Regions from separate parts of the Homo sapiens genome. Here all the other regions are linked to region 2. Evidence: fine-mapped expression QTL. A gene starts in region 2. Each other region holds a variant in brackets. All regions are shown on one strand. Distances are between the middles of the regions.

Region 1 (2,860 bases), 58 kb after region 2:
CAAATTTGGTGATATGATTTCTGTTTTATTGCTTTTGAGAGAGTAATAAGCAGAGAGACAAAGCAGCACTTAAGGGTGGTGCTCTAATAGCCTGTTGGTTTGAATGATGTTTTGCTTTTGAGTTTGGTGCATTAAAACATTTCAAAATACTTAAAATCAAAAGGGATACAGTTGCTGTACTGATCAACCCTGCTTTTCTCAATAGAGGTATTTCTGAGAAAAGTAAGTAAATAAACTCATATGTTTACTAAAAGGAAATCTCTAGTAAGCCTTTTGAGAAACTTTCATGACAGCTCAAGCTGTGTGCATGTGGCTAAAAACTGCACTGTTCTGCACCTTTGGAGAGTTCAGGGGTATGTTATATAGGGTTTTATTTACCTAAAGAATCAAAGAAACTCTTGCCTTTCAATTCACTTCTTTAATAACTATTCTTCAGTCTCATTTATATAATGCATTGACTCACCACTTTTTCAGGCCCTCACTTCCTTCTTACTTGGTTTAGATGCCATGGTTCATTACTATAATTTCTTTCTTGCATGTATCCTCAGCAACCTTGCCATTTTCTCCCTAAGTAGGTGAATGTTAATAGAAGAAATCCCACTTACTTCATGTTTATTGTATTACCATGTCTTAAATGGCTCCTCAGTACTACCCTTGAATCCCACTACATTCTCTTAAATTTGCCTCCATGCTATCTGAGATGAATATATCCCACCAATTCTTCACTGCTGAAATCCCCAATACTCCTTCCTCATTTTCTACTGTTTGTTGATTCTTATTTTATTGCAAAACAGAAACATCTAGAAGAAAAGTGCTTGTCTTCTCACTTTCTTCCCTCTCAACATACATGCATCTTAACCCATATATACTCTTCTTTTCCTCTCATCTCTCTCTTCTCTCCACAGCCAGCCCCTCCACCTGCATAACCCATATTTTCTCATCACCTATCATTTATGTCAGCACGTGAACATGTTTCAATATCTCTTACCTTAAAATAAAACTCCTTTGATTTAACATCTTTCTCCAATTATGGCTCATTCTCTGCTCCTTTTTATTGCAAAAATTCTTGAAAGAGTTTTCTATTGTCTCTGCTTCTACTTTATCATCTCCCATTCTTGCTTTCCTACATTCCAGGCAATAATTTATCATCCTATTCACCAAGACCCCTTTGTCAAGTTAGCAACAATGCCCACATCTTGCAACATTCAATGGTCAATTCTCAGTTTCATTTTATTTGAACCCTGACAGGTATTTATTTGATTACCCAATCTCCATTAGCCACTATGCTGAAGCACTTCTTCACTTAAATTCTAGAGTGTCACATGTTCTTGAATTATTTTCCTACCTCACAAGTAGCTTCTTTTCAGTCTCCTTGGCTGATCTTTCTTCTTCTTCTCAGACTTAAATCTCTTCTCTAATTCTCCCCTGCTAGATGAGCTCATTTAATTGAATAACTTTAAAATCTAGTGACCCCCAAATTTCCATCTACATTCAATGCTCTTCCCTAAGCTCTTAACATATATACAC[A/G]ACTTATACTTAATATTTCTATTTGATCATTAATATGATATTCTCAATAATAGCATATCTGAAACCAAACCCTTGACTTCTATCCTGTCCTAGCTGTCCTTCTTCCATATTTTCTCATCTTTATAACAAGAACCACAAATCACTCACTGGTTCATTTGCAGAGTAGTCAGTCTTGATTACTCTGACTTTCACATCCAATATCTAGTCCATCAATTATTTTGACTATGTAATCAAAACATGTCCCAAACGTGACCGTGTGTCCTGGGCTCCTTCGTTGCCTGGGCTACTCTGAACCACCCTCTTCTGTTGCCTCACGGAAGCAATTTCCTAATGGCTTCCTGCTTCCACACTTTCTCCCCCACAAGCTTTTCCTCACACCGGTGTAATCCTTTGAAAATGAAAAGCAATTATGTCATCCCAAGGCCCTTTCATGGCTTTTATTCATATTTACAATAAAACTAAACCTCCTTTTTATAACTCAGAAGCTTCCTTTTCAGAGTGGTCCCCAGAATAACAGCATTAGCATCCCTTGGAAGCTTGTTAGGAATTCAGAATCTCAGGCCCTGGCCCAGACTTCCTGAATCAGAGTCTGAATTTTAAAAAGATTCCAGATGATTTACATGCACAGCTAAGTTTGAAAAGTGTGAGACAAGAAGGCCTTGCCTGCACGATCTCACTATGTCTTGCTTTTGTGACATCATCTCCTTCCATTCTCTCTCTTGGTCGCTGGTTTTATTGCTTCTTCTCAAACCACCAACTTTATCCACTTCAGGATCTTTATACAAATTCAGTCTACTTGCAACATTTTCCCCTCAGATCTTTCATATTATCAACGTCTCTGTTTATATGTTACCTCCTGAGAGAGGCCTTCACTGGCTTTTTTTTTTCAACAGTACATCCACCCAGATTTGCTCAGTCCACCCTCTGCAGTAGCTGTTACAATTATGTGAAATTATGTTATTTATTTGGATACTTGCTTTCTATCCTACCCCAACTCCGCAGAAAATAAACACTCTGAGGCCAAAGACCTTGTCTATATGCAACAGTTCATGATAAGGAATAGGAGATAAATATTTATTTATTCAATTAATGAATAAACAAACGAATGAGACTGTGATTGGGCATTGTTCACTATGGTGAATAAGATAGGTGATGGTTGCAGCCCTAATGGAAATACATTGGCAGTGGACAAAAATAAACAATATGCAATCAATTAATATGAGATAATTACAAAAGTATGAGAAGAATTCTAAGGTAGGAGTATGTTGAAAAGAAGGCAGGATTGTAGTAAACGTTAGACTGTTACGGTCTAATAACCCATTAATAGACATGT
Region 2 (2,500 bases):
AAAATTCACGTGAGCTTTGTTTTTTAATAGCCCCATAAAGACAGATAATAAAAGCACAATTATAGCTGAAAGTCTGCCGAAAAAAAACTAATTCTGATGTTTGCCCTGTAGATTTTCTTTCCCTTCAGTTCAAAAGGTATAGAGAATTGCACCATCTTTATACTTCGAATTGCAATATAAATCCATTTTTAAAAACACAGGCATATTAGGGCCAAAGTTGATTAATTTAAGGTTTTGTCTTTCTGCCTACTTATAGCTTGCCTTCAGTCACTTCACTTTTCTGACTAAAATGTATCCATTCACAATTATCAGAGTTGTTGAACCTCCCACCCTCTCCCACCAGAGTCAAAATTACACAGGTTTGCTCTGGCTGAGGTAGAATGAAATAAAACTACAAAGACAGACCGAGAACTTCCTGCATTCTAGGTATTAGTCTAAAAAAGTCCACTTCTCACATCACACAAATCTCACAAATTAGCCACTGGATGTTTGATCAGTTCTGCATTCAACAAATGAAGTAGGAGAGTGACAATGTAGTAACTTGCCCAGGCCACATAGCTACTTAATTTGCAGGAAAATGGACGTTATATTAATATTTACTAGCAACTTGCTTAGTAGGCTTTTTAGAATTAAATAGATGAATAAACGCAAAGCACTTCGACCAGTGGCTCGCGTAAACAAATCAACATTTGACATTGAAAATGAGAAAACCTACAAAGTTAGTGACTTGCCCAAGGTCACACTAGTGAGGAGTGGAGGGTCGGGAACCTGAGCAGTGCTCACACTCTCCGCTCTGCCTCCCTGTACCAAGTTGCAAGCAGGGTTCAGAGCTAGTCCCAGAAAGCCCTATACATGTCCAAGATCGCATGGGGCACTCCAACGTTTGAAAACTTGGCTAAATCAGATTCCAGGGGGCAGTCACCTTGAATTCTGCGGAGCTGTAGAGCCTGTCGGTAGCCCAGGACTCTGGAGCAGCCCCAAGGGTCGGCGCGGACCGGGGCCCCGGGGCCACCAGAAGCGCGGCCCCAGTGGCTCGTGGCGCGAGAGCGCGTGCGCACCCCCAGCCCCGACCCACGAGGGTCCACATGACCCGGGCGGCGGAGGCGTCAGGAGAGGGTACCCACACGCAACAGCAGCATAGCCCGTTTTTTTTCGAAGGTACCCCCCGTAGGATCCGGTGGACAGGACTCAAACAGATCCTGTGAAGCGAAGACAATGAACCCCGGGGAGCTCTGCCCAAGTACCAGATCCGGAAGCAACCCGAAGCGGCGGCGCAGCTTGCCGACGTCTGCACGCCGCACGCTGTCGTGACATCAGCGCGTCTTGGCGCCGGGTAGTGGAGTGGTCACGTGAGTGGAGGCTTTCGATTGACTCCCTAAAACGCAGGGTGTAGACAGAGTACATATTAGCTTATATTGTCTGCTGAGTGCTGTGCCAATTCCTTTGCATTGTCTCTTTCTTACTACTGCCCTGTGGTGTGTGTACTGTCAGTTCCCCCAAACTACCTCTGGAAATCCGGACCGAGTGACTTGCCCAGGAGCTCACAGGTGGGGAGCTGTGGAGCCTGGAGTGCCGCCCAGGCAGTCTGATTCCCGAACCAGGAGCCGAGGTCTTAGTCCAGGGACTTAAAGATGCTATTATTAGCACAACGTTGAGACTTAGCCTTCTACCTAATGGCAAAATAATAATGGCACTTTTAAAATCTGGAGGTCGAAATGTATTCCCCATGTTGTCAGTGACAGAGCTAATCTTGAAGTGCATCTGAAAGGAAACGGGCCATAACATTGATTGCAATACTGAATCCAGGAAGGTTTTGGCAAGAAGTAAAGGTGGGAAAAAGTTCCATGCTGGACCCCCAATGTTTCCATCGTCATCAAGTTACCACTTCATGGAATGAGCTCTGACGAAGTAAGAATGGGGGATAAAACAGGTGATAGGAGGATTGCATCCAGTGTTTGTCTCCCACTATTTCTCTTGCGCTTTTCTGGAATATCCAGAATTTGGTGCGAAGGAGGGAGATGACAGCTGTGTTCAGTTCATCATTGTGACTGAAGACAGAATCATTCGTATTGTTTCCAGAGCCTTTGAAAGTTTCTTCATTTGGAGGATTTCTTAGGATCAAGAATTCTGTACCAGACTCAGTTCTTTCTTGGATTTTTTTTTCCCCCCTGAGATGGTGTCTCGCTCTGTCGCCCAGGCTGGAGTACAGTAGCGCTATCTCGGCTCACTGCAACCTCCGCCTCCTGGGCTCAAGCGATTCTCCTGCCTCAGTCTCCTGAGTAGCTGGGATTACAGGCGCGCGCCAGCAATCATGGCTAATTTTTGTATTTTTAGTAGAGACGGGGTTTCACCATGTTGGTCACGCTGATCTCGAACTCCTGACCTCGTGATCTGCCCACCTCGGCCTCCCAAAGTGTTGCGATTACAGGCGTGAGCCACCGCGCCTGGCCCTTTCTTGGAACTTTTATGAATTAAAACAGTACTTGATAGACGACTAATT
Region 3 (2,860 bases), 380 kb after region 2:
TAAGAGCTATCTAGGACAAACCCACAGCCAATATCATACTGAATGGGCAAAAACTGGAAGCATTCCCTTTGAAAACTGGCACAAGACAGGGATGCCCTCTCTCACCACTCCTATTCAACATAGTGTTGGAAGTTCTGGCCAGGGCAATTAGGCAGAAGAAGGAAATAAAGGGTATTCAATTAGGAAAAGAGGAAGTCAAATTGTCCCTGTTTGCAGACGACATGATTGTATATCTAGAAAACCCCATTGTCTCAGCCCAAAATCTCCTTAAGCTGATAAGTAACTTCAGCAAAGTCTCAGGATACAAAATCAATGTACAAAAATCACAAGCATTCTTATACACCAATAACAGACAAACAGAGAGCCAAATCATGAGTGAACTCCCATTCACAATGGCTTCAAAGAGAATAAAATACTTAGGAATCCAACTTAAAAGGGACGTGAAGGACCTCTTCAAGGAGAACTACAAACCACTGCTCAATGAAATAAAAGAGGTTACAAAGAAGTGGAAGAACATTCCATGCTCATGGGTAGGAAGAATCAATATTGTGAAAATGGCCATCCTGCCCAAGGTAATTTATAGATTCAATGCCATCCGCATCAAGCTACCAATGACTTTCTTCACAGAATTGGAAAAAACTACTTTAAAGTTCATATGGAATCAAAAAAGAGCCCGCAATCCCAAGTCAATCCTAAGCCAAAAGAACAAAGCTGGAGGCATCACGCTACCTGACTTCAAACTATACTACAAGGCTACAGTAACAAAAACAGCATGGTACTGGTACCAAAACAGAGATATAGATCAATGGAACAAAACAGAGCCCTCAGAAATAACGCCACATATCTACAACTATCTGATCTTTGGCAAAGCTGAGCAAAACAAGCAATGGGGAAAGGATTCCCTATTTAATAAATGGTGCTGGGAAAACTGGCTAGCCATATGTAGAAAGCTGAAACTGGATCCCTTCCTTACACCTTATACAAAAATTAATTCAAGATGGATTAAAGACTTAAATGTTAGAACTAAAACCATAGAAACCCTAGAAGAAAACCCAGGCATTACCATTCAGGACATAGGCATGGGCAAGGACTTCATGTCTAAAACACCAAAAGCAATGGCAACAAAAGCCA[A/G]AATTGACAAATGGGATCTAATTAAACTAAAGAGCTTCTGCACAGCAAAAGAAACTACCATTAGAGTGAACAGGCAACCTATGAAATGGGAGAAAATTTTCACAACCTACTCATCTGACAAAGGGCTAATATCCAGAATCTACAATGAACTCAAACAAATTTACAAGAAAAAAAGAAACAACCCCATCAAAAAGTGGGCAAAGGATATGAACAGACACTTCTCAAAAGAAGACATTTATGCAGCCAAAAGACATATGAAAAAATGCTCATCATCACTGGCCATCAGAGAAATGCAAATCAAAACCACAATGAGATAACATCTCACGCCAGTTAGAATGGCAATCATTAAAAAGTCAGGAAACAACAGGTGCTGGAGAGGATGTGGAGAACTAGGAACACTTTTACACTGTTGGTGGGACTGTAAACTAGTTCAACCATTGTGGAAGTCAGTGTGGCGATTCCTCAGGGATCTAAAACTAGAAATACCATTTGACCCAGCCATCCCATTACTGGGTATATACCCAAAGGACTATAACTTATGCTGCTATAAAGACACATGCACACATATGTTTATTGCGGCATTATTCACAATAGCAAAGACTTGGAACCAACCCAAATGTCCAACAACGATAGACTGGATTAAGAAAATGTGGCACATATACACCATGGAATACTATGCAGCCATAAAAAATGATGAGTTCATGTCCTTTGTAGGGACATGGATGAAATTGGAAATCATCATTCTCAGTAAACTATCGCAAGGACAAAAAACCAAACACCGCATGTTCTCACTCATAGATGGGAATTGAACAATGAGAACATATGGACACAGGAAGGGGAACATCACACTCTGGGGACTGTTGTGGGGTGGGGGGAGGGGAGAGGGATAGCTTTGGGAGATATACCTAATGCTAAATGACGAGTTAATGGGTGCAGCACACCAGCATGGCACATATATACATATGTAACTAACCTGCACATTGTGCACGTGTACCCTAAAACTTAAAGTATAATAATAAAAAAAAGAGTTCTTATTGATAATCCTACTGGTGTAGGATTAGTTTGAATAAGCATTTAAAAAACATACCATAAGTTTATTTTTCTAGTTATTGCATATAACAGTACATTCTCTTGTTGCAATCAGATTGCAAAGCTGATTATTCTTTTCTGTAACCTTTTAATAGAATATTTCAAACAAGTTTTTATTTAAAAAGAGATGGCAATACAGAAAATGTTTTCTCATGTTATACATGAATATAACCTTTTTTTCTGATCAGATTGCAAAACTGATTATTCTTTTCCGTAACCTTTTAATAGAATATTTCAAACAAGTTTTTATTTGAAAAGAGATGGCAATACAGAAAACGTTTTCTCATGATGTACATGAATATAACCTTTTTTTTCTGATAGCATGATTGTAATTAGATCCATTGTGGACAGTGCTTTACATTTATTATATTATTAGTGATAAAAATCGTGATTGGGAACTGAAATAGAAGCTGTGCCTCTGATAAATATCAGAACTTTGGAGGGCTTTAATCTGTTCTAATTTACTCATAAGTGTGTAGACTTAGTTATAAATCAAAACAGCATGTTATTCTACACCTCTGTAGGTTATTTTGGACAACTCTGAATTTCCATTACATTTGAAAAATAGTCAAGAGTCAGGTTATTTTTAAAAATCACCTAAGGCGGCCGAGTGCGGTGGCTCACAGCTGTAATCCCAGCA

Direction of the effects. Alleles are on the strand shown, and positions count from the first base shown. SD is a standard deviation of normalised expression in the study named. Not every link is listed here.
With allele G in place of A in region 1, the expression in skeletal muscle of the gene that starts at base 1,290 in region 2 is lower (small effect, 0.30 SD a copy in GTEx).

What was found. PIP is the estimated chance that this variant, and not a neighbour inherited with it, causes the effect.
Region 1: its variant is fine-mapped to the expression of GUF1 in skeletal muscle (GTEx, PIP 0.92).
Region 3: its variant is fine-mapped to the expression of GUF1 in prefrontal cortex (ROSMAP, PIP 0.95).

Annotation. Positions count from the first base shown.
Region 1 is chr4:44,619,486-44,622,345 of GRCh38, reverse strand. It overlaps YIPF7 (Yip1 domain family member 7), which reads left to right. Exons shown (of 6, transcript NM_182592.3): 6 at 1-258. Among named protein-coding and RNA genes, the nearest start is that of YIPF7, 31 kb to the left of the region's middle. The variant A/G (reference allele first, on the strand shown) is at 1,528.
Region 2 is chr4:44,677,210-44,679,709 of GRCh38, reverse strand. GUF1 (GTP binding elongation factor GUF1) reads right to left here and starts at 1,290. Exons shown (of 17, transcript NM_021927.3): 1 at 923-1,290. The coding sequence starts at 1,087. RefSeq lists a silencer at 952-1,111 and an enhancer at 1,183-2,071.
Region 3 is chr4:44,300,014-44,302,873 of GRCh38, reverse strand. The region is part of intron 1 of KCTD8 (potassium channel tetramerization domain containing 8); the gene reads left to right. All of the region lies in intron 1 of LOC107986275 (a long non-coding RNA gene), which reads left to right. Among named protein-coding and RNA genes, the nearest start is that of KCTD8, 150 kb to the left of the region's middle. The variant A/G (reference allele first, on the strand shown) is at 1,132.